Homo sapiens: one gene and its partners. The protein of the gene in region 3 purifies or fractionates together with the protein of the main gene of each other region. This does not show direct contact. Each region holds a gene or a part of one and is shown on either strand. Other genes may lie near its edges.

Evidence for each region.
Region 1: the proteins of FHL5 (region 3) and ZMYM1 purify together in Homo sapiens (affinity purification with mass spectrometry; 3 studies listed by BioGRID and IntAct, with this or other methods). This does not show direct contact.
Region 2: the proteins of FHL5 (region 3) and CTU1 purify together in Homo sapiens (affinity purification with mass spectrometry; 3 studies listed by BioGRID and IntAct, with this or other methods). This does not show direct contact.
Region 4: the proteins of FHL5 (region 3) and ZBTB33 purify together in Homo sapiens (affinity purification with mass spectrometry, with the first as the bait; one large-scale study listed by BioGRID). This does not show direct contact.
Region 5: the proteins of FHL5 (region 3) and TAX1BP1 purify together in Homo sapiens (affinity purification with mass spectrometry; 3 studies listed by BioGRID and IntAct, with this or other methods). This does not show direct contact.
Region 6: the proteins of FHL5 (region 3) and ZMYM6 purify together in Homo sapiens (affinity purification with mass spectrometry; 3 studies listed by BioGRID and IntAct, with this or other methods). This does not show direct contact.

What each region holds. Positions count from the first base shown.
Region 1 is NC_000001.11:35,106,885-35,110,384, reverse strand, and holds part of ZMYM1 (zinc finger MYM-type protein 1), read right to left. Parts: intron 92-3,500; coding exon 1-91.
Region 2 is NC_000019.10:51,101,910-51,105,409, forward strand, and holds part of CTU1 (cytoplasmic tRNA 2-thiolation protein 1), read right to left. Parts: intron 2,682-3,500; 5' UTR 2,661-2,681; coding exon 2,153-2,660; intron 1-2,152.
Region 3 is NC_000006.12:96,601,128-96,604,627, reverse strand, and holds part of FHL5 (four and a half LIM domains protein 5), read right to left. Parts: exon of another isoform or gene 3,476-3,500; intron 1,027-3,475; 5' UTR 1,015-1,026; coding exon 856-1,014; intron 1-855. UniProt on the Homo sapiens protein: May be involved in the regulation of spermatogenesis. Stimulates CREM transcriptional activity in a phosphorylation-independent manner.
Region 4 is NC_000023.11:120,253,812-120,256,354, reverse strand, and holds part of ZBTB33 (transcriptional regulator Kaiso), read right to left. Parts: coding exon 921-2,543; 3' UTR 1-920. UniProt on the Homo sapiens protein: Transcriptional regulator with bimodal DNA-binding specificity.
Region 5 is NC_000007.14:27,827,162-27,830,267, reverse strand, and holds the end of TAX1BP1 (tax1-binding protein 1), read right to left. Parts: intron 2,531-3,106; coding exon 2,448-2,530; intron 1,641-2,447; coding exon 1,439-1,640; 3' UTR 501-1,438; downstream 1-500.
Region 6 is NC_000001.11:35,014,946-35,018,445, forward strand, and holds part of ZMYM6 (zinc finger MYM-type protein 6), read right to left. Parts: intron 218-3,500; coding exon 43-217; intron 1-42. UniProt on the Homo sapiens protein: Plays a role in the regulation of cell morphology and cytoskeletal organization.

The DNA of each region.
Region 1 (3,500 bases), on a different chromosome or scaffold from region 3:
CTGTCTTCCCCAAATCACTCGTAGTCTCAATCATTTCATCTGAGGGCTTCAATGGTTTGCAAGGAACAGATATAAGTGGTTTGGCAGGTTTCTGTTTAGAGATTAAAATAATATTCATATTCCTGGTATATGATATGTTGTTAATGAAGAAGAACCTATTACCACTGCTTTTAGTTGGAATATTAAAAAGAATAACAATTAAGACAGTTTTTACATTTTCTTAAAAAGACACTACAGATTGCAATAACTAAAAGAATATTGGCAAATCTGAAAATGATTTTTATTATTTATCAGATATATTTAACAGCAATAATAATAATACCTATGAAAGCAGTAAGGCCAGGTGCAGTGGCTCATGCATGTAATCCCAGCACTTTGGGAGGCCAAAGCAGGCAGATCACCTGAGGTCAGGAGTTCGAGACCAGCCTGGCCAACATAGTGAAATCCCGTCTCTACTAAAAATACAAAAAATTAGCTAGGTGTAGTGGCGAGCGCCTGTAATCACAGTTACTCAGGAGGCTGAGGCAGGAGAATCACTTGAACCTGGGTGGCAGAGGTTGCAGTGAGCTGAGATTGTGACACTGCACTCCAGCCTGGGCAACAAGAGTGAAACTCCTTTTCAAGGGAAAAAAAAAAAAGCAATGAAGAAAGTGGTCACAGAAGTTCATTTCAGGCAGTCAAAGCCTACTGGATAAACAAAGGCCTTATATAGTTATAGATCTGTCCTCAATGGTAGCTTGGGAATTAACTTGGGAAGATGTCTACCGATGCTGAGGAGGAGCCAGGAAGGAGTGCTTAACTTAAATACCTTACAAGATACTGTGGGAATCACTGTTTTTCTAGGCTAACTTCATGGTAAAAATTACAAGCATATTGTAAGAAAGCAGCATACAAGCAATAGAAAGTATAGAGTACTGTGAGTTCAGTAAGTAGTAACCATGCAAAAGAAAGGATATAAACTTTGAAAGGCAGGCATTACTGTAAAGATTATGCTCACCACCTATTCTTTCTAGTCAAACAGGAACCAATATTCCTGGATTTCAGAATATGTCAGAGCCTAGGCACAGTGGCTCACGCCTGTAATCTCAACTTTCAGAGGTTGAGGCGGGGGGATCACTTGAACCCAGGAGTTTGAGACCAGACTGGTAAAATAGTGATACCTCATCTCTAATAAATAAATAAATAAAAATAAAAAATTAGCCTAGTGTGGTGGCGTGCGCCTGTAGTCCCATTTACTTGTGAGGCTGAGGTGGGAAGGATCACTTGAGCCCAGGAAGACAGAGGTTGCAGTGAGCCGAGATCATGCCATTGCACTCCAGCCTGGGTGACAGAGTAAGACTCTGTCTCAAAAAAAGAAAGAAAAAATAATACATCAGGCTCAGTGTGGTGGCTCTTGCCCGTAATCCCAGCACTTTGGGAGGCTAAGGCAGGAAGATCACTTGAGCCCAGGAGTTCGAGACCAGCCTAGGCAGCAAAGTGAGACCCATCTCTACAAAAAACACAAACATTAACCAGGTGTGGTGGCGCATGCCTGTGGTCCCAGCTACATGGGAGGCTGAGGCAGGAGGATTGCTTGAACACCTGAGGTTGGGCCTCCAGTGAGCTTTGCTCACACCATGCACTCCAGCCTCCATCCTGGGTGGAAAAGCAAGACTCAGTCTAAAAAAAAAAAAAAAAAAAAAAAATCACCGATGGAACAAAACTGCTTTTGGAGATGCAAAGTACACAGACAGGCTGGGCACGGTGACTCACACCTGTAATCCCAGCACTTTGGCAGGCCGAGGCGGGCAGATCATCTGAGGTCAGGAGTTCAAGACCAGCCTGGCCAACATGGTGGAACCCCGTCTCTACAAAAATACAAAAATTAGCTGGGTGTGGTGGTGTGCGCCCAAGTAACCCCAGCTACTTGGGAGGCTGAGATGGAAGAATTGCTTGAACCTGGGAGGCGGAGGTTGCAGTGAGCTGAGATCGTGCCATTGCACGCCAGCCTGGGCAACAGAGCAAGACTGTGTCTCAAAAAAACAAAAACAAAACAAAACAAAACCCACCAAAGTACAAAGACAAAAAAATACATATACGTTTTATTTTTCTGTGAGAGAACAGGATATTGGCAAAGGCACAACAAAACAAAAAGGATAATTTCGAAAATTTCTATTTTTATCCTTTATTAGTATGAACAACTTTTATATTTTGAGAAATCTTAACAATTCACTAATCTTTAACGTTAAGCAACAATAGTGGCATAATTTATTTTTATTTATTTATTTATTTTTGAGACAGAGTCTTGCTCTGTTGTCCAGGCTGGAGTGCAGTGGTATGATCTCGGCTCACTACAACCTTTACCTTCCCCAGGTTCAAGCAATTCTCCTGCCTCAGCCTCCCGGGTAGCTGGGATTATTAGGTGTGTGCCACTATGCCCGGCTAATTTTTGTATTTTTAGTAGAGATGGAGTTTCACCATGTTGGCCAGGCTGGTCTTGAACTCCTGACCTCAAGTGATCCTCCCGTTTGGCCTCCCAAAGTGCTGGGATTACAGGCGTGAGCCACCGCACCTGGCCCAATAGTGGTATCATTTATAATTAAGTTAGTTTAATATTCATAAGGGAAGGCTAACTTAATATATTCTATTAACATATGGCCAAAATAATTACAATTACATCTAATAATCCACTTTTTAAAAATAAAAAGCTACCCCATTTTTAGATTCACATATTTGGACATTTTTCTAATTCTGGATTATAGTTCACTAACATTGTAGATTTACTCCATTATCACTGTCACATGATGTCTTACATTCAGATGCAAGGGGAAAGTGTTAGGCTGTGCTTGTTAACTAACTCGTTTACCCAAATCAGTCTTGCCCCATCACATAAGCTGAACAACTGGGTACTCAATACAGGTTTTTTTTTTTTTTTCTGAGACAGAGTCTCGCTCTGTCGCCCAGGCTGGAGTGCAGTGGCACGATCTCGGCTCACTGCAAGCTCCGCCTCCCGGGTTCATGCCATTCTCCTGCCTCAGCCTCCAGAGTAGCTGGGACTACAGGCGCCCGCCACCACACCCCGCTAATTTTTTTTTTTTTTTGTATTTTTAGTAACGATGGGGTTTCACCATGTTAGCCAGGATGGTCTCGATCTCCTGACCTCGTGATCCACCCGCCTCAGCCTCCCAAAGTGCTGGGATTACAGGCGTGACCCACCGTGCCCGGCATATAGGCTTTTAAAAACAGAACAAGGCCGGCCAGGCGCGGTGGCTCACACCTGTAATCCCAGCACTTTGGGAGGCCGAGGCGGGCGGATCACGAGGTCAGGAGATTGAGACCATCCTGGCTAACACGGTGAAACCCTGTCTCTACTAAAAATACAAAAAATTAGCCAGACGTGGTGGTGGGCACCTGTAGTCCCAGCTGCTCGCGAGGCTGAGATACGAGAATGGCGTGAACCCGCGAGGCGGAGCTTGCAGTGAGCTGAGATTGCGCCACTGCACTCCAGCCTGGGCGACAGA
Region 2 (3,500 bases), on a different chromosome or scaffold from region 3:
GTCAGGGATTTTTCTGGAAGGCTTCATTACTTTTGGAAGTACAATTAATAAGTGATTCTATCAAATTAACTTTAAAATCCGAGGCAGCCTCTCATTCTTTTTTTTTCTCCCCCAGCTGGAATCTTGCTCTGTCACCCAGGCTGGAGTGCAGTGGCGTGATCTCGACTCACTGCAACCTCCGCCTCCCGGGTTCAAGCAATTCTCCTGCCTCAGCCTCCCGTGTAGCTGGGATTACAGCCGCCCACCACCACACTCAGCTAATTTTTGTATTCTTAGTAGAGACGGGGTTTCACCATGTTGGCCAGGCTGGCCTCGAACGTTTGACCTTGTGATTCCGCCTGCCTCAGCCTCCCAAAGTGCTGGGATTACAGGTGTGAGCCACTGTGCCCGGCCGAAGCCTTTCATTCTTTCCATACACTGTCTGCTCTTGTATGGTAAGGATTATTCTTCCCATTTTCAATCACAGAGATCTAGGGATTTCTCCAAAGTTACTCAGTAAGGAAAGGGCCACATCAGTGAATGAAGCTCAGTAAGCCTTCCCCAGAGCCAGTGGCCCTACCTAGCATGGTGGCACATGACAGCCTCAGAACTACTTTTGCCTTCATATGCTTTCAGTGTGCTGATTCTCTCCAACCATCATCTCTCACCTCCATCACCGCAGCTGGCTTCCCACTGACTGGTCTCCTCGGCTTTGTCCCTGTCCCTCCAACCCAGGTTCCTCGCCATGGCCTGGGTGAGCTTTTCAAAGTGAAACTCTCTTCATGTCACTTTTACTGGTTCCGCCACAGCCTACAGGGTAAGGCCTGACCTCTTCCACCTCTCCAGCCTCCCCTGCCCTTGCTTTCTGGGTTCCAGCCACACTGGACTTCTTGGGGCAGCCCAAATTGGCTTTTCACAGGCCAATAACCTCTCCCTAATTCTTACCCGCTTTACCTCTTCACTGTGAGCCTTCAGATTTCAAAACCGTTCCTTGACCCCACTCCCTCCACGTCATAGGGTTCTCTGTGTGTACACATAGTCCATAACATGTCCATACATGGTCAATAACATGTATAATGTTTATAATTTTGTACCTGATAACCATGCAAAGGTAGGAACTTGTGCGTAACTGTATTCTCAGCCCTAGCCTGACAATGATGATGATAATAGCATGTATAAAATGTGTAATCTATATTATATCATACGGGTTATGTAACATAACTATAATATAGATAACGTTATACTTCTACTGACTCATCTAATTGTCATAACAAGTTTATGAGCTGGGTACCATTCATAGTCCTGTTTTAGGGATGGGGTGAAACAGAAGTACAGAGTGGTTAAGAACTTTGGTATGGCCACAGTTGGGATCCGGCATATAGCAGAAACTTAGCATCTGTTTGTTGAAGGAATGGATGAAAAAGACAGAATAAAAAAGTTATCTTCCAGCACTTTGGGAGGCCGAGGTGGGTGGATCACGAGGTCAGGAGATCGAGATCATCCTGGCTAACATGGTGAAACCCCGTCTCTACTAAAAATACAAAAAATTAGCTGGGCGTGGTGGCAGGCACCTGTAGCCCCGGCTACTCGGGAGGCTGAGCCAGGAGAATGGCGTGAATCCGGGAGGCAGAGGTTGCAGTAAGCCGAGATCGCACCACTGCACTCCAGCCTGGGAGACAGAGCGAGACTCTGTCTCAAAAAAAAAAAAAAAAAAAAAGTTATCAAAGAGGAGAGGCCAACCAAGAAAAGGAATTAAGAGATGGAGATGCTTTTTAGAGAAAGAGCTGGATTCTGAAAGGTGGACCATAAGAGATCAAGCATGTTAGAAACATTTAAAAATAAGTAAAGGACCAGAGATCTCCAGAGATTTTCACCTCCCACCCCTTTGGCAATCTGTGGAGACCAAGACGGTGGCCAAGACCCAAAAACCTTTGTGATCACTGCCTGGCCCCTCTGTCTCCCCAGCGTCTTGAACCTTTAAAGGGCCCCAGCCCCAAACTGCAGCATGCGCCCTTCCGCACCTCCGTACAGGGATCCTCCCATTAAGCCACCAGGGTCTCCTCGCCGCCTTCTGGAGCATGCGCCTGAATCCCCTTTCAGGTCCCGCCTCCTCGCCTGTGCATTCGCCCCACTGCCTCGGAGAGTGCCGCTCTGCGGCCCGTACTACGCTCACCTGTCACGATGTGCGTGGCTCCCACGCGGCGCGCCCCTTCCTCCAGCGCCCGGCGCCGCAGCACTCCACAGAAGGTGCAGCAGGAGCGGCTGCGGCCGGAGCCGGCTGTGCTGCGGGCCACGGCGTCCATCGTCCAGCCCCCAAAGAGGTCTTCGTAGGCCACGACCGTGAGCGGCAGCTCCCAGCGCGCCGCCTGGCGCCGCACGGCCGCCAACGCCGCGTCCCGGTAGCCACCGATGCCCTCATCGACGGCCACGAGCTGCAGTGAGATGCCCAGGCGCGGCGCCAGCGCGCGCAGCACGTGCGCCAGCACCGTGGAGTCCTTGCCGCCCGAGGCGCCCACGGCCACCACCGCGCCGGGCGGCAGCAGGCGGCCGGCGAGCACCGTGTGCAGCACCTCGGCCTCGAAGGCGGCGCAGAAGCAGGCACCGCACAGCGCTTGGCCCGAGAGCGGACGGCGGAGGGCGGCGCGTGCAGCATGGCAGGAGGCGCACGGCGGGGCGGGCATTGCGGGAGGGGTCGGCTTCTCCTAGACAGGGAGAGAGAGGAGGTGGGTTACATATGGATTCCGGATTGCAGGGTCCCTGCCATCGGGGAGATTGTCTGGATTGCACCTCTGCCCGGAATAGACCAGGGAGACGTGTGCGCGAGTGGAGTAGCTTCTTCTAGCGCTGGGGATAGGATGGTTATAAATAGGTCCGGTGTAAGGAAGCCACTGCCTTAGGGAAGGCTTCTTGGATTGCACCCATTATGCAAGAAGAAGAGAAGTAGCTTAAGAAGCTGGCTTCATGGGTAAAGAGAGGGAGCGACAAGCAGGTTATACCCAGGATTAGGTTGTGTCCTCTCCAGAGGGATGGGGGTGTATATTAAGGCCCATTTGTCACAACCTCCAGGGAGGCCACCCTTGTTACAGTCCTGATCAGGACAAGGTAGGTATCATTGGCCTGGGCCACCAGGGCTGTTAAAAGCCCTTGGGAGGTGAGGGGTTTTTGACTCTAAGGGCAGAGGGAGGCCAGGGGACTGAAGCTCTGTGCAGCGGGAGGTGGAAAACAGGAAAGGCCAACTGATTGCACTTTGTAGGGTGGGATACGGTCTCCAGGAATGGGTTCTGATTGCATCCTATGAAAGGCAGGGTGATCACCTTCTCCAGGGAACACAGGCAGCCTGGATCACACCTCTCAGGAGACCAGCTGGGGTTGCACACATTTTGAGGGTGAGAAAATGGGTGGGCCTCCAAGATTGAACTCAACCCTGCTCTGGTATCAGAATGCCCCACAAGCTTCTGTGCTCTCACCAAGACATGGATCGGCCCATCTTTGACCTTCATCTGTTATCTTTCCTACTTCAT
Region 3 (3,500 bases):
AGTTGTTACTGAAACTGTTACCCATAGAGAGGAGACTCTCTGGGGTAATTAAGAGCTAGAGCCCAGGGCTTTCTTGGTGGGTCACTTAAGGCAGCTGGGAAAAAACAAATACATTCTCTGCTGTGTCTTCAAAATTTGCCTATATTCTTTTTATAAACTATAATAGAGGTTTTTCATGGAATGATTTTTAAAAATTTTAGGGTGCAATGTTCTATTACTCTTTGAGATGTAACTAAACAGACAAAAAATAACATCACCTAAGTAAAACAAAGGCAGAAAGAGGGAAGAAAGAGACAGAGAGAGAGAGAGAGAGAGAGAGAAAGAGAGAGGAAAATAATCGGAGGATGGAAGGAAGAAAAGAAGAAAGAAAGAAAGAAAGAAAGAATAAGCATGTCGGAGGAAGGGGTGGTAGGTGTGAGAGGTATCAATAGGGTTTAGTAAGAAATGAAGCTGATTTTACATCAGAAAACAGATTTTGAATCCTTTCAACTTCAATTCTTTATGCATTTATTTATACCCTTGTCATTCCAGAAATAACAAACACACCCAGAAGGTTACTGAGAGCTTGGAAACAGCAGGAAAATTCTAGCTGTGTAACTTTGGACAAATAGCTTAACCCCTTTAATCTTTAGCATTCTCAGCTACCTTAGAAGATCATGTGAGGATTAAGCATATGTTGTATTTCATAGTGCTAAGTGTAGTGGCTGGAGCTTGACTGCTGGTAACTTTTAAGATCCTTATATATCCAGTAGCAGAGAAATAGTGTTGAAAGTCAACACTAAATGAAAAGAGGCACTCCAACCCACTTGTTTGCTGTTCATAGGCAGTAATTCTGTAAATTGAGGTGAGACTTACCTTAGAATCAGATTCAATTGGTTTTTTGCATTCCTCGCAATAGTTAGAAAATACACGATCATAACATGTAACACAGTATGGACTGTCATCCTTTAGTACATATTTCTTCCCAAGAAGTGATGCTGTGCAGTATTGACAGTAAAAGTGAGCAGTTGTCATTTTGGTTTGATCCTATGAATGACAAAGTGATTAATGTATATAAAAGCAGAATTTTGTTTATAGGATAAATGATGAAACCTTAATATAATGTGAGTGAAGCATTTGAATGAACTTATATTTTCTTAAGCAAAAATCCCCCAATTTAGGAAAGTATGCTTATAGTCATGGTGACATTTGGAGTGATTTAGGAAAGATTACTCTCCCATCTTGGCAGTTCCCTGTATGTTTTGCTAAAAAAAAATGCATAAAACCTGCATCTAGATTATGAAAAACATCTTGTGTTTATCATAAGCTAATGTGGAATTCAATGAGAATATGGTATCTGTTGAAACAGGATGGTTTTACCTCAAGGATATAAACTGTTGCTAGGGCTTTTAATAACTATCATCACTTACTTTCTTGCTGGAAAATTCTAGAGGCAGATTTTGATGGAAATAACAGTCTTTTTTACTCAAATATAAATTAATAATCAGTACATTGTCATTTTCTAGTTCATTCTTTTACTCCTCAAGTCTTTACTGAATACCTAATAAGGGCTCTGCACATTTACCCTGAGGTCTTCGTGTACTACATCCCCTCCTTGGCTGTGGCTTCCACCATCCCAAATGTGCTGATGACTCCAAAATCTCTGTTTTCTGCTAGCTTTAGATATCTTCATTTAAATGTCCTTTACCAAACTGGCCAAATAAAACTCCTCAGCAGGTAGGATTCTCAGACCAAGTGCTAGGTCTTTGTGACTATTGTGAACAATTGCCCAGATGCAGAAGTGCAGATAAAATCATCAGTGGTAGAAAACAACAATGGGTTCCTTCAGGCTTTAGGGCCAAAGTAACATGTATAGAGCATAAATAATAGCAGCAGCTATTCCATTATAGCTATGGATAAAATAGCTAGAATTCATCTGCAAGGCAAAATGCATTCTGTAAGATGAATAAAAAAGCTGATATGAAACATAAAGCCAGTGATAGATAAGGACTCTGATTGTTTTGTAAATTTGGAAAGCCATTAAGAAACAATGCACAGCCTGTAGTCCCAGCTACTCGGGAGGCTGAGGCAGAAGAATGGCGTGAACCCGGGAGGCGGAGCTTGCAGTGAGCCGAGATTGTGCCACTGCACTCCAGCCTGGGCGACAGAGCCAGACTCCGTCTCAAAAAAAAAAAAAAAAAAAAAAAAAAAAAAAAAAAAAAGAAACAACGCATATAGATTTCCAGGTTTTAATTAGGCATTGAACATGAATTCTTTGTTGTTACAAAAAAAAATTAGCACTGCTTTTCCTTGGAAAATGAGATTTGTCATCTCAGGGTTTACTGGAATATATTAGGAGCTTTGAATATTTTCTAATTCTCCCCCCACATAATTTTTCTTTTAATTTTAGCAAAATCAGAGGAGCAATTAACGATAATACAACAGAGTTTTTGATACTAGTTTGTACTGACTACATTTGAACTCTTATTCTCATGCGTTTTGCCTTATTCTAGTGATGAAATTCCCAGCAGAGAGCCTTGCTGAATGCACATGATTATTAATTCTGTACATAGCAGTTTTGCTATATTGTTCTTCACTAACAAGTAGAGAAAAGGCAGAGGATTTGGAATATGTGGGTCTTTTCCCAGGAAAGAGATGAAATGCAGACTAGAAAGTTCGCAATGGAACATGGCCAAAATTATCTAAAAGGAACATTGAATTCTCCATTTGATTAATTCCACAGAAATGTTCCTTCCTAGTGAATACAAACACACTCAGAGGGTTACCGAAGGCTTGGAAACAGCAGGAAAATAGATCTAATTCCCTTGAAAGGTTTAAAAATAAAAGTTGTATTCACATTTACAGCGATCAAGTGTTTGTCACTTTATAGAAATAAAATATGTACCTTTAACTCTCTTCACTTAATATGGAAAACGTCGTTTTCATTAATATTTATTTTAGTTTTAGATGTGTATAATAGCATCATGAAACACGGCCCCTCAGGGGTTAGGAACTGCAGTCTACTGCCATTTTGTGAGGCTTTTAGTGTATTATAAAATGAATATATAAAACATATAAAACCACAAAAGGGATTACCAAATTGATAATATTTCAATTGTTTATTTTAAATGACACTTTAAACATGACAACATCAAAATACCTGTAACTTATTTAGTGATCAGATCAGAAGTCTAAATATAAGACAAGACGGTCCTTCTCCCACCCCAGTCCTAATTACATAACAGGCCTGGATCCACAGAAAATGCCTTACAATATAGACCATATTTCTTAATTTTTTGTTTTGTTTTGTTTTTTGAGACAGAGTCCTGCTCTATTGCCCAGGCTGGAGTGCTGTGGTGTGATCTCGGCTCACTGCAACCTCTACTTCCCGGGTTCAAGCCATTCTCCTGCCTCAGCCTCCTGAGTAGCTGGGACTACAGGCTCATGCCACCGTGCCTGGCTAATTTTTGTATTTTTAGTAGATATGGGATTTTACCGTGTTGGCCAGGATGGTCTCAATC
Region 4 (2,543 bases), on a different chromosome or scaffold from region 3:
CTATCATTTACAAGGATTTATACATAAAGATACATTTGGTGGCTTTCAGATTCAAAATTTGAAAATTTTCATGTTCATGGGAATATTTTTAACCTTAAGAAGCCAAAAGGAAATCTTCATTCCATTCTCTACTATGTGGTAGCCAGAGAATTAAAAATCCATGCAACAGAACTTTTCATCTCCTCCTATCTGCCATTACAGAGATTGTTTTCATTAGTTTTTTGCCCCCAGAGACCACACTGCGAAGGTATAAAGTGGTCTAGCCACCAAAGTCTTTTACAGACTATGGCAATGAAAGCCAGGATTAATTCTAATTAGCTAAATCTAATTTGTTCTTCAGATGAGAGACTTGTCTGCATGGCTATTTTCATAGAGGGAGGGTAGCAGGAGGTTGCTGTTCGCTTGGACTAGCAGATTACACAACCCAAGTACTGACTTATTCTGACATTTTCCAGAACAACTCTAAAACTTATTTACTCTTTATGCCATATACAAGACAAAACACACATTTATTGTCTCAATGTTAAGAAAATTGAGAATTCAGCAGTAAAGTGCTAACATGGAAGGGGAAAGCTGTAAGATGTACTAGGGTATGCTAATAACTCCAGTTATTTTCAAAGAACATTCAGACTGCTTCAAATTCTATTCAGGAAACTATCTCTCCAAGCTTTTAATTTTTGCCTCTTTTAAATGAGCTGAAAACTAACTATATAAACAGATACTTGGGGAGGGGGTCTCACCTCTACTCAAAACTTTCAGGAAAATTTGCTTCTAAAAATTATCAACAAAAATCCCACTACACTTCCTTCAGATAATGTGGCAGATCAAATTAACTTGTTCGCACCTTAATTTGTTTTACAGATCTTCTGAAACCCCTGCCCCATCATCCAAAACAAAACTTTCTAGTATTTCAAAGGAGTTTAGTAAGACTCTGGTATTATAAATTCAAACTCAGTACTGCCATCTGTTACATTTTGTTTAAAAATTGAATCATTTTCCTGCTGAATAAAAATATCTTCCCAGGTCATTGGCTTGTTCTGAGTAGATGTAGTGGTCCCTACTGGAGGTTCTTTTCCAGTGTCAACCTTATACCCAATACCATCATCCTTCATTGCAGGAATAGTGCTTGATCTATCGGAAAGATATGCATATTGTCTGATTTGTAAAGACCTGCATGGATGTAAACGATAAAGCTTTGAGTCCCCAGAAGGATCTTGACTATGAACTGACTTTATATGTGAAGACATAAACTGATAGTTGATGAAAGATTTGCCACAGGCCAAACACTGATACCTTCGCTCCCCTGTGTGATGAATTTCATGCTTTGTGCGATATTCTGCAAGAGGAAATACCTTCTCACAGTAACGGCACGGATACTTCTTCTCCCAAGAATGAATGTTAAAATGTCTCCGCAAGCTTGTCAGACAGACATATGACCTTTTGCATACAATACAGATATAATAGACCCTTCCATCTACTATTAACTCATAGTGATCATCATGTTTTACTTTCATACGTTTGTTTGCCATCTCGCTGCCAGACGTTTTTGGTATTTCATTCTCAAGTCTGGCCTCCCCTTCATCAGGGTCATCTTTGACAGGGATCACTATATCATAAGTATCTTCACCGATATTTGCATAAACCTTGCAACCAGTCGATAAGCCTTCAATTTCAGTAGCTGTATCTAAAGTAATGATCTTCTGACCCTCCATTAGATGTTTTGATCCTACGCCTGGATCATTAGTATTTCTAGTAATTATATCTGAAATTTTTAAGGAATTGGAAAGTGGTTCTTGAAGAAGTGTAGGAATCTGCATCTTCTGTATTAATGATCCATCAAAACTGGTATTTTGGGAGGTATCAGCCTGTGGGACCAAAGATGTATTACTGACGGCCGAGTCAGGACTGGAGCTAATAGTGTCATCATCATCATCTATTATTTCCTCCTCCTCCTCTTCATTGGCCTTGTTTCCTGTTAAAATAGCACTGTTTGGTGTCTGCTGATTCTGCACAAGTAAATTGATTGAAGAGGGCATATGATTTGGAAGTGAAGAACTGACATTTGGTGGTGTAGAAAGTGGTGTCTGATTTAACAAAATAATATTGGGAGTCAGATGTGTTGGAGCTGAAGATACCAACAATTTTTCACTTCCTTGTGTTTGGCTCAAAGTTGCCTGATTCACAGGAGTAGGAAGTTTCTGAGTAGGTGTGATATTTGTTAAAGGGGGCGAGTTATTGCTAGCACTAGGTGCAACATCTGAAATAGCAACAGGGCCTGGGTTAGATTGGACCTGTGCCACTGTGTTATTACTCGGCAAAGTCTCCTTTGTGGGCAGAATCTCGGAGCAAAAAATGACATCATCATCATCATCATCAGAATCGGTAACAATGATCTTTTTCATTTCATAATCTTCGGCAGATAATGAAAAAGACTCTGTTATAATAGGCATTATAGTAGCCCCATTATCTTGGGCTTCATCTTTTGATTTCTGTATTACAAGGTTCTTGTCACCAGAATCAGGAGGTAAAGGCTCAGTATTACC
Region 5 (3,106 bases), on a different chromosome or scaffold from region 3:
CTCCAACAAAAATGCTCCCATTGTTGAACATATTTTACCTAAGTATATAACCTATCTGGAAGCTGAAAGTCTCCAAAGCTATTGCTTCCTAGGACTGCTGTGTCCTAACAGCTGGCATATGAATGCCTCATACTGGTTTGCCCTAGACTCAAAAAACTTTTTAAAGGATTCTAACAATATACAAACTCTGCTTCCACAAACAAATACAAGTGACGACATGATATGCTGCAGTTCACATATAGCAACTCAAAATGCCACCAAGTCTAAATATTAGGTTAACATCTTCAATAGCTAGTTTGCTCAGAACAAATGTAAACTATTTTGATGATAACTACAAAAGCGGCAAAATCAAAAGTTGGTGCTTTAAATTATTCACACGCACATTATAAAAGGGAAAGGGAATACAATTCAGAAGTATTTTAAAGGCCCAAACCAAAAAAAGATGTTCAAGATGCTAGATTAATGAAAAACTTTCACAAATAAATTTGACAACAATGAAATTACAGATCTTGAAAAATGTGTCCTCTTTCTTTAATGTTAGTGACAGTTCTATACAGCACAGACATAACTGAAGAAACACATTACTTTGATTTGGGTTTATGTATTGTACTTTTAATCACTTACTGAGAATATTTCAAATTTATATTCTCATCAGGAAAATGTAAAAAAGATACTGATATATATTCTATGATTTTTATGCCACAAACACCCCTGTTATGAGATCATTTAATAGGAAAACAATTATACTGACATCTCTTGTTCCATTTTCCCATTAGATATATACATACAACTTCAAGATAGTTTAAAAATAATCATTCAGGTTATTCTAAAATTTTGCCATAAAATTAGCAAAGTATGCCTTCTGTTAATTGCTAAAACCAATATTTCACATATAAAAGCATGTGATCTCATTCTACATGCAGCTCCATTTCTGAAAATTAAAAACCTATCATTTCATGGGCTAAATTATAGAACTTTCTATATTCGAAGAACTACTTCATAAGACTGTTATGACAAATGCTTTTTATTACATAATATTTAGTAGTCATGCTCAATCAACAAGGTCAACAGAAACTTGTGAATATTCTGCTAAATAATCTAGCACACTAATACATACACGTTTTTCAGTGCAGTAACATTGAAATAATCCTTGTATCCTTTATTCAGACAGTTCTGCAAACTAGGGAATAAATAAAGATACGAACACACAAGAACTTTTTTTTAAAGCAGGTAAGATTAACAGAGATTAAAATTTATTGATAAGCCAAAGACTGACCCTGATCCTAGTAACACCAAACTCAAAGTAGCTCCTGGTCAGAAAGTGCAGTAAAGGGTGCATGAAAGCATCCGCTCTATGGTCTCCTCAGTGGTCTATTTTAGGTGTGGTTTTTTTTTTTTTTTTTACTGCTAAACTATATTAACTCATAATAAAAAGTAACTAGTCAAAATTTAGAACATTCTGATCAAAATGGGTCTGCACATGCCTTTCAAACACCTGCTGGTCATAGTCAGGAGGGAACTGCTCGCTGCACATCGGGCACACCTTCCAGTGACTTTCAACATGTTCTTCAAATTTGCTCTGATCATAGTTAGGAGGAAACATTAACTCACAGAGGGGACACTTCTTGTGAACATCAAAGCTTAAAGAGAAAAATGAAAGAATTACATGTTTCTAATAAATGTAGAACAACAACTTGTCCATATATGACAAGGTTCCATTTATCTAGTTAGCTGATATTCATACTAAACAACCTACCTTAAAAGTCTTTACTCCAGAAACATTTCTCTGCTTCTAAATGCTTGCTGTAGACAATTGTGTAACCCATTTATAGAGCCTCTAAATTCAATTTTACAATTAGATTAACAAAACCGTTTTTCCCCCTTAAAACCTCCCAAATCCAATCACAATTACGTGAAATTAGTACCAAGAATTCTTCCACGTTTAACAGAAAATGCCTTTTGTAAGACTGTAAGGATAAATACAACTCATAACTTCCCACCAGTGCATTTGGTTTAATAGCAAAGTTTTTATGGCACTGGTTCTCAAATGCTTGTATGCATCAGAATCAGTCGGAGGACATGTTTTTGTTTTTGGCCAAAAATACTGTATTTTTAACCAGCAAGATCATTGGTGCATTATTATACAACATTAGGTGTTTTTTGCAAAACTAGTTCCCATCCCCAAACAACAGACAATACATGCATTTGAATGACATTTTAGGAACAGTAAATATTCTTTTAAATACTGCAAGTTAAAAATGTTTTCTGACAAAACTCCCTAAATCGGAGGACATGTTAAAACACATATTGCTGGGCCTACGCCTGGTGTTTCTGGTTCAGCTAGGCCAGGCCCTACACATGTGCATTTCTAATGAGTTCCCAAGGACCACCTTTGAGAACCACTGGCCGATATAACCCAAATTCTACAAAGTAAAGAAGAAAACTACCTGGAATCAAAGCAAAAGCCTGTCCCATGCCCACGTAAATGTTGACTTGGAGGATCAGGAGCAGTAGGCACATTCTCATCTTCCTAGGGGAAAAATAATTTTGGAACTTTTAAGAAAAGTAAAACCAAATATAAATTCCTTAATTCAATCAAGCACATACTGACAGTATAAAAGAAGATTACACTTCAGGAAATTTTCTCTCTGCTATCATTTAATTAGACTTTCAAATAAACATGTTTGAAACTTTGCAGAGTATTTCACTATAAACTAACACTGTGGTGTTCTTGAAATAAAAAGCAGTATTCAGAGGAATAGAGACATACCATTTACACATACCATTTACCATACCTGTATGTGTAAATGAAGCTGAGAACAGTAGACCTTTTCAAACCTATATACGTAGGTAACTTTTACTGACTTTATCATTCTGCAGACTGGGTGACCAGTTTTTTGCTTTTTTTTTTTTTGAGATGGAGTCATCACTCTGTCACCCAGGCTGGAGTGCAGTGGCGCGATCTCGGCTGACTGCAACCCCTGCCTCCTGGGTTCAAGCAATTCTTATGCCTCAGCCTCCTGAGTAGCTGGGATTATAGGTGTGCACCACCATGCCCAGCTAATTTTTGTATTTTTTAGTAGAGACAGGGTTTCACCATGTTAGC
Region 6 (3,500 bases), on a different chromosome or scaffold from region 3:
TCTCTTTCAGCAGAATCCCAATAAAAGTAAAATGTAACTTACATCAGCATTCTTCTGACACATACTGCACTTAGTTGAAATGCTTTTGGTATATATGGTAACAACAGGTTTTTTCTTTAGCTCATAAGATGACAAGCATGATTGGCTGCAGAAATCTTTGCTAGGATAGGAATTCTCAAAGCGAGTTGTGATCACATCCTTAGGATTTAAAATGTCTCTAAAAATAAATAACAAAGGTAAAAATGAAATGTATTCTTCACAACTGTAACTTCCTCCTCTTTGTGAGGTGAAATAACACTTACTAAGGGCAGGTACTGTATGGTAGAAAAAGGATAAGGAATCTGCAAACCTGGGTTTGATGAGTTCTGCTATTTATCAGGTGAGTGACAATGAATGATGTAATTACTATCTCAATTTCTTCATGTATAAAATGGGGCTTATAATATCTAATTCATAAATTTGTCAAGAGTGAATTATATTTAAAATATAGCCAGCCAGGGCCAGGTGCGGTGGTTCATGCATGTAATCCCATCACTTTGGGAGGCCGAGGTGGGCGGATCATGAGGTCAGGAGTTCGAGACCAGCCTGGCCAACATGGTGAAACCTCGTCTCTACTAAAAATACAAAAACTAGATGGGCGTGGTGGTGGGCGCCTGTAATCCCAGCTACTCGGGAGGCTGAGGCAGGAGAATCACTTGAACCCGGGAGGTGGAGGTTGCAGTGAGCCGAGATTGTGCCACTGCACCCCAGCCTTGGCAACAGAGCTAGACTCCATCTCAAAAAAAAAAAAAAAAAAAAATATATATATATATATATGTGGCCAGCCAGATGCTGAAGACAAAAATAGGAAGGCTTCCAGCCCCAACCAAGTTTCATCTGCTATAGCCAATGGGACCAGTGTCCATCCCACAACTCCAGACCACAAGACACTGGTTCTCTCATTAGCCAGAGGCTGCCCAAAGTAGAACTGAAATGAGACAATAAATGAATTTTTTCTTTCTTTTTTTTTTTTTTTTTTGTGAGACGGAGTCTCGCTCTGCTGCCCAGGCTGGAGTGCAGTGTCACGATCTCGGCTCACTGCAATCTCCACCTCCTGGGTTCAAGCGATCCTCCTGTCTCAGCCTCCGGTTCGAGTAGCTGGGACACCAGCACGTGCCACCATGCCAGGCTAATTTTTGTATTTTTAGTACAGACGGGGTTTCGCCATATTGGCCACGCTGGTCTCAAATTCCTGACCTCGCGATCCGCCTGCGTCAGCCTCCCAAAGTGTTGGGATTACAGGCATAAGCCACCGTGTCCAGCCAAGACAATAAATGAATGTTTAAAAATTAAAAGTGCAAGATTTTGAGAAACAAATGAGCTAACAGAAGACAAAAAATAAGCATGATATATGACAAAAGGGCTGTTAAGGCTTTGTATCAGAGGACAGATGGAAACAAGAACGAGACAGGAAGAACAAAAATAATTGGGTGGTTCTGTGAGACTCCTAGAGCCAATTTGTAAGAGCTAATTATTGCAATAAGCACAAATAGCAATACCCTGGTAAAACAGAGGTTAAGTATTGCCATTCTTCTGACAAGTATAAAAACTAAAGGAAATAGTCACTAATTATAAACACTAGTGCAGGCCACAAAGTAAATAATAATGGCAATAATATATACTACAATAAGTGTGTTGAGTAATTACTATGTGCCAAGCATTATTCTCTTTACTCAAATTACCCAATTTAAATACCACAAAAATGATGGAGTGCAGTGGCTCACCCCCATAATCCTAGCACTTTGGAAGGCCAAGGCAGAAGGATTGCTTGAGCCCAGGGAGTTCAAGACTCCAGTGAGCCATGATCATGCCACTGCACTCCAGCCTGGGCAACAGAGCAAGACCCGATCTCTATAAAAAAAATTTTTTAATTAGCAGGGCATGCTGGCTCATGCCCATGGTCTCAGTTACTCAGGATGCTGAGGTGGGAGGATTGCTTGAGCCCGGGAGGTAGAGGCTGCAGTGAGCTGGGATCACGCCACTGCACTCCAGCCTGGGTGACAGAGTGAGACCGTGTCTCAAAAAAAAAAAAAAATCCCCAAACCACTATAAGGTTAAGTATTACTGTAACTGCCACTTTACAGATGAGGAAACTGAATGAGAGGTTAAATAGCTTGTCAAAGTCATATTGCTAGTAGGCAATAAAGCTGAAATACTAATCCAGGCAATCTGATTCTAGTCTATGGAATTAATTATTCCACTATCCTGCCTCCCATCCTGCACCTTTATTATACAGGTATATTCAATGGTAAACCATGAGAAAATAACAACAACAAAAATTATTTTAATTCTTTAAAACTCAACTTTAAAAATATGACAGCAAATCTTAGAAACCAAAAGAATATGCTTATACACAGATGAAGTATTAATTTTGAAAAGTGATTTTTCTACTGAAAACAGAGCAATAAAGAGTTTCACTTAATAAGGTGAATCTGCCAGTGGCATAATAAGTACAAAAATAGCAAGTAAAAATATGTAAATCAAAGAGAATGACTTTATAATGAAAATCTGTGCACATAAATTATAAGTGTACTCTGAACCTTACACATGCAAATGAGTGTTATATCGTAACATTTACCGTAGAAAAACCACACCTTCCAACAATAACATAGCTCAAAACATTTTTCTAATTTTTTTAAGATAAAACTTAAGATAAACCCTTAGACTATTTTTTAACTTTTAATTTTATAAATATCATGTTTTAACAGTATGACTTAATTTAATTAGCTAATATATTGGCCTGATTAAGGTATCAAGCAGCCTTTGAAAATTTGTAAAAATCAAATGCATGCTGAAAAGATAAGAATCTGTCTCCTAACCTTATGCTAAAAAGTCACTGACGGGGGTGACTACTTTTAAGAAAACAATAGGCATTTGGATGTATAAGTTGTGTTATGTTCTTTAAAATTATTTAATTTTATTTTGGTATTTGGTATGTTGAAACAATATCTAAAAATAGAAAACTAAGTTTACTCTTTCAGATTAGTTTCATGAGAATGACATAAAAGCATTAATTAGAATGGTATTTTGCAACAAACTAATTTAGAGTATATAAATATTTTAAAATTCCTCTCTCCTGGCCACATGTGATGGCTCACACCAATAGTCCCAGCACTTTAGGAGGCTGAGGCAGGCTAATTGCTTGAGCCCAGGAGTTTGAGACCAGCCTGGGCAACATAGCAAAACCATCTCTACAAAAAAATACAAAAATTAGTCGGGCATGGTGGTATGCGCCTGTGGTCCCAGCTATTTGAAAGGCTGAGGTGGGAGGATCATCTGAGCCCGGGGAGTTCAAGGCTGCAGTGAGCTGTGATCACTCTACCATGGGCAACAAAGAAAAAAAAAAATCCTCTCTCCTCTTTACTTGGAAATTTCCATATAGCAGGATCTACTTTTAAATAGTTTAAGTCAAGACACAAAGCAGATAAACACAGCCAAAGACAAAATAGGGGCCTACAAGT